2 separate regions of the Homo sapiens genome follow, and region 1 is linked to region 2. The links come from fine-mapping of genetic effects on gene expression. A gene starts in region 2. The other region holds a variant in brackets. All regions are shown on one strand. Distances are from middle to middle.

Region 1 (2,912 bases), 54 kb before region 2:
GTCAGGGGGACCTGAGCAGCCTATGACTTGGATGACAAAACAAGGTCCTGAAATAACTAATAAATACATCCTACCACATTGCATAAATTCTCTCTTTCCCTTTCCCTTACCCCTTCATTTCCTACCCATTTTTTCCCTGAGGCTCAATTGCTCTAGGGACTGAAAAGGGAAGTAAGCCCCTGGAGTAACCCCTTTTGAACCTGGCAAGAAAGAGCTCTATATTTCTTTCTTTCTTTTTTTTTTTTTTTTTTGAGACGGAGTCTCGCTCTGTCACCCAGGCTGGAGTGCAAAGGCATGATCTTGGCTCACTGCAATCTCCACTTCCTGGGTTCAAGATTCTCCTGTCTCAGCCTCCCAAGTAGCTGGGATTACAGGCATGCGCCACCATGCCTGGCTAATTTTGTATTTTTAGTAGAGACAGGGTTTCACCATGTTGGCCAGGCTGGTCTCAAACTCCTGACCTCGTGATGAGCCCGCCTTGGCCTCCCAAACTGCTGGGATTACAGACGTGAACCATCACACCTGGCCAGAGAGCTCTGTATTTCTGCAGCTTCTGTCAACTGGACAGGGTTGACACAGAAACACAAAGGCCACTGTTGCTTCCACCTTCCGACTTGAGACAGGCACTGTTCTAGCCATTACTCTATAGTCTGACTCCAAACCCCCTGGCATGAAATTCCCCAGGTAACAGCACACATAGACCAAGCAGGCCATTCAGAACTCCCAAATTAAAATCAGCCTGAACAACAAGAAGTCATAAAGGCCAAATTTCATACCCTAAAGACCTTTCCCAATGGGGCACAGTGGCTCATGCCTGTAATCCCAGAACTTTGGGAGGCCAAGGTGGGTGGATCACTTGAGTGAGGTCAGGAGTTTGAGACCCAACTGACAAACGTGGTGAAACCCAGTCTACTAAAAATACAAAATTAGCCAGGCGTGGTGGTGCACACCTGTAATCCCAGCCTCCCACTGGGAGGCTGAGGTGGGAGAATTGCTTGAACCCGGGAGATGGAGGTTGCAGTGAGCCAAGATCACGCCATTGCACTCCAGCCCGGGCAACAAGAGCGAAACTCCATCTCAAAAAAAAAAAAAAAAAAGACCTTTCCCTTGGGAAGTGTTACTTCCTCCCTTTCCAGGGCTCCTAGGGTCTACACCAGGAGCAAGTTCAGCATTACGCTTACTCTTTGTCACAGGCATCAATACTGATGTCACAGCAAAAAGGGATCCTGGGAGTTCAGTTCAAACCTTCGCCAATATATGACTGCCCCCAACACTCAAGACAAATGGCTACCCACTGGCCTGTTCCTGATCATGCCACGTCCTTCCCAGCTGAGGCAGGGCCTTTATACCTCTAGGTCCCCTTGCCCAGAATGCTCTGCTCCAA[G/A]GCACTCCCATGGCTGGCTCCTTGATATTTGGGTATCGGCTGAAATGGCACCTCCTCACAAGTCTCTCCCTGACCATCTAAACTTGAGGAGTATCCCACCACTAATCACTAAACTTTACCCAGTTTTACTTTCCTCACAACACTGTACAGTCACCTGAAATTAGCCCATTCATTTATGTTCATGTTTGCTGCCTGTCTTTCCTTAGGAGAAGGGAAGCTGAGTGAAAACAGGGCCTTTGCTTTGCTCAGCACTCTATTCTCAATTCATACTGGGTGCCAAATAAACACAAATATACAGCTATCTGCTGAATGGAAGCTCTTGAGGAAAACCATCCCAGTTTTGGACCTCTCTGTTAAAAAGGTTCTTGTAAAGTTGGACTGAAATCTAGTTCCTTGTAACTTACATTCATTTTGGTCCTTATCCATGTCTCTTTTTGCTGTGACATGGGAGGGCCTTGGGGCAGAGCATTCTGGGCAAGGGGACCTAGAGGTATAAAGGCCCTGCCTCAACTGGGAAAGGTGTGGCATGATCAGGAACAGGCCGGCAGGGAGCCACTTGTCTTGAGTGTTGGGAGCAGTCATGCACTGGCAAAGGTTTGAACTGAACTCTCAGGATCTCTTTTTGCTGTGACATCAGGATTGTTGCCTGTGGCAAAGAATAAGCGTAATGCTGAACTTGCTCCCCACTGGAACCACAGAGAGGAGGTTAATCACTCTCTTCCTTAGGAAAACCCATCAAATGCATCTTTCAGCTATCCCTCCCTAAAACCTCCGTGCTCTGGGTTAATCACATTTCTTTCTAGGCCATTTATTCCCATATGATGAAGTTTGAGCTCTCCAATGCCACAAGGCCTTTCTCTGAACATGCTCCCTGTTTATATGGGTTCTTCTACAGCACTGCACCCACAGACGTGGTCCTCTAACTGAATGGCCTAATTACTCTTCAAGGGTAGTCAGGTAGGTGGACCTCCCTAGTGCTCTACCTCTCACCCTAATCTCAACTGCAAAGCCATCATGCAGAGAAATCCACCTAGACACAAGACATTAGATATTTAGTCATTTCCAAAGGCATACAATTTGCATATAATTGAAGACATGATGAGACTGTACATCTACTCCAGGATCCACACCAGAAGAAAGCAGTCACTGCACACTGGCAGTCAATCTTGCTTGTCACCACCACCACCAAAGTCATGGCTCCCTGGCAATTGTGTTCCCTACTCAGGAACTTGGCCCCACAATGTTCACTTTAGTGCAATTTAAAAGACTAATTGGAATTCATCTGCACAAACCAGTATTGCAAGATGTTTTATGGGAAAATAAATGGGTAGAACTGTGTAATGATGGGAGAAGAGCCTCGTAGATAAATGAATTCCTTAGTTTCAACAATTTACTTTGTAATGGCCCAAATGGAACGCTAAATAGAAGAGTGGGCTGTTTTTCCTCATCCCCATATTCCAAGCTGTGGGACATGGTGGAGTCTCACTGAAGTGCATGCCTGTTGCAATTAAAGGCATGTTTGCATTCT
Region 2 (2,912 bases):
GAGGCAGGTAGACTACTTGTCAGGAGTTCGAGACCAGCCTGGCCAACATGGTGAAACCCCCGTCTCTACTAAAAAATTTAAAAAAAAAAATAAAATAAAATTTGCCGAGCATGGTGGCACATGCCTGTAGTCCCAGCTACTCAGGAAGCTGAAGCAGGAGAATCGCTTAAACCCAGGAGGCAGAGGTTGCAGTGAGCCGAGATCACGCTGGTGCAACTCCAGCTGGGTGGACAAAGAATCTATCTCAAAAAAAAAAAAAAAAAGAAGAAGGTAGAACTTAGGATGACAAAATGAAGGTGTAAGAAATGGAGGCAAAACTGTGTTCACTGTCTTCTCCTTGCCCACCTCTCTCCCGCCACCATTGCCACTGTGCTTGTCGACTTTGGTTCAGAAGGAGGCCTGGGTTGTAGGGACGGACACCTGGGTGGAGGCTGCGGCTCTGTCATAAACAACACTGTGGTTCTAGGGAAGTCCCTTGACGCCTCTGCTAGGAGGCTTTGTTATAGTCCCTGAGGCTGAGTAACGGTGATGGTGGTGGTTTGGATGGGCAATGTAGGGGAGTCAGAGCTCTGGATGTAAGTCTCTGAGTGAGCTGCTTTGTGACCTTGGGTGAGTCTCAGTGTCTGCATCTGTGAAATGGGGATAAGAACATTCACCATACATGGCTGTGGGGAAGACTCATTCAGATAAGGCACATGAAAAGCACCTTATAAGCTGCCTCAGTCTGTACAAAGACCAATTACGGTACTATTAGGCTGTCTTTCCTGCCCTCAACATCCCCATTCTCAAATCCCAGCTCAGCAGCACAGGGTCAGGGGGGTGCAGGCAGCCAGCGCAGACTGCCAGGAGATGCAGCTTGGCCCCTTAGTGTGCCTGTTGCAATTGCTGCCAGGAGCCTGAGTGGAGCAGAGGGGTGGAGAGAGGGGCACAAGCTCATCTGCGGTTGCTATGGTGCCCCATCCTGGATTTGCCCATCTCTCCTAATGGAGCAAAGGGCAGGCAGAGGGAGGGAGGGAGAAAGAGCACAACTGGTGCCTTCGTCTCCCCTTCCCTCCCATCTCTCTCCCTCGGGAGCAGATGTGGATGGGGGATGGAGGGAGCCTGAATACTGGATAGGAGGGGAGGAAAGAGTGGGGTGCTGGGATTAAGAGGTTTGAGATAGGGGGCCGCACTGAGACAGTAGGGGGCAGGGCCCTCATACCTACATCCAGAAGCCAGCTGGTGACGTTAGAGAGAAGAAAAAAGCAGGCGAGCTGGCACCAGCGTGAGAGGGAGACGGAGAGAGGAAGAAGGAACGCCAGCATAGGAGGCGTGGAGGCCGACAGCCCCCAGACTGCAGCCAGCCTCTGCCTGGGCTCTCCTGAGCCTGGACCCCAGGGTCCTGAGAGCTGCCCCAAGGATGGGCACCAGGGGAGCGGTCATGCCCCCTCCTATGTGGGGGCTGCTGGGCTGCTGTTTTGTCTGTGCCTGGGCTCTGGGGGGTCCACGGCCCATCCGCTCTCTGCCCCCTCTGTCTTCCCAAGTCAAGCCAGGATCTGTACCCATGCAGGTGCCCCTAGAGGGGGCCGAGGCCGCCCTCGCTTATCTCTACTCTGGAGATGCCCAGCAGCTATCACAGGTGAATTGCAGTGAGCGCTATGAAGCGCGTGGGGCAGGAGCCATGCCAGGGCTCCCCCCAAGCCTACAGGGGGCAGCGGGCACCCTTGCCCAGGCCGCCAATTTTCTCAACATGCTGCTGCAAGCCAACGACATCCGTGAGTCCAGTGTGGAGGAGGATGTGGAATGGTACCAGGCACTGGTCCGCAGCGTGGCCGAGGGGGACCCAAGAGTGTACAGGGCTTTGCTGACCTTTAACCCTCCACCAGGGGCCAGCCACCTACAGCTGGCCCTGCAGGCCACCCGGACTGGGGAGGAAACCATCCTGCAGGACTTGTCTGGGAACTGGGTGCAGGAGGAGAACCCTCCTGGGGACCTGGACACCCCTGCCCTGAAGAAGCGAGTGTTGACCAATGACCTAGGGAGCCTCGGCAGCCCCAAGTGGCCGCAGGCAGATGGATATGTGGGGGACACGCAGCAGGTGAGGCTGTCTCCTCCTTTCCTGGAATGCCAGGAGGGACGGCTCCGACCTGGATGGCTGATCACACTCTCTGCCACCTTCTATGGACTCAAGCCAGACCTCAGCCCAGAAGTCAGGTAAGTGGGTTTGTGCAGGATTTGATGCATGTGTGGGGATGTAGGGGAAGGAAGTACAGGTCCCCTCAGCTGTGCCTGGGCCATTTGGCACGAACATGTGCATGCCTGGGGGGCACACAGATGTGGGTATTTGTACTCAGCTGTGTGTACTTACAGTCGGCTCTGGGAATCTGCAACTATCTGTTAACACATACAGGTGTGAGTGTACATGTGTATAAATCAATCCATATTTATCTGGGTTTATGTGCTTGAGCACATGCAGGAATGTCTGTGAGCCTGTGCATATACAAATAGGTATACATATGTAGCATACATCTATATGCAGGTATACACATGTGTGTAGAGATATGTCAGTATAGCTGGGTGCAGTGGCTCACGCCTGTAATCCCAACACTTTGGGAGGCTGAGGCGGGTGGATCACCTGAGGTCAGGAGTTCAAGACCAGACTGACCAACATGGAGAAACCCCATCTCTACTAAAAATACAAAATTAGCTGGGTGTGGTAGCGAGTACCTGTAAACCCAGCTACTCAGGAGGCTGAGGCAGGAGAATCACTTGAACCTGAACCCCAGAGGCAGACGTTGCGGTGACCCGAGATCACGCCATTGCACTCCAGCCTGGGCAACAAGAGCAAAACTCTGTCTCAAAAAAAAAAAAAAAAGATGTGTCAGTATAGACAGGCAGAGGTCTTGGCCCCCAGGCCTGAGAAGGGAGTGCAA

Which allele goes with the higher level. Alleles are on the strand shown, and positions count from the first base shown. SD is a standard deviation of normalised expression in the study named.
As copies of A replace G in region 1, the expression in prefrontal cortex of the gene that starts at base 1,233 in region 2 goes down (moderate effect, 0.48 SD a copy in ROSMAP).

The links.
Region 1: its variant is fine-mapped to the expression of GPR179 in prefrontal cortex (ROSMAP, PIP 0.93).

The regions. Positions count from the first base shown.
Region 1 is chr17:38,396,427-38,399,338 of GRCh38, reverse strand. All of the region lies in intron 9 of SOCS7 (suppressor of cytokine signaling 7), which reads right to left. Among named protein-coding and RNA genes, the nearest start is that of ARHGAP23, 31 kb to the left of the region's middle. The variant G/A (reference allele first, on the strand shown) is at 1,385.
Region 2 is chr17:38,342,277-38,345,188 of GRCh38, reverse strand. GPR179 (G protein-coupled receptor 179) reads left to right here and starts at 1,233. Exons shown (of 11, transcript NM_001004334.4): 1 at 1,233-2,193. The coding sequence starts at 1,400.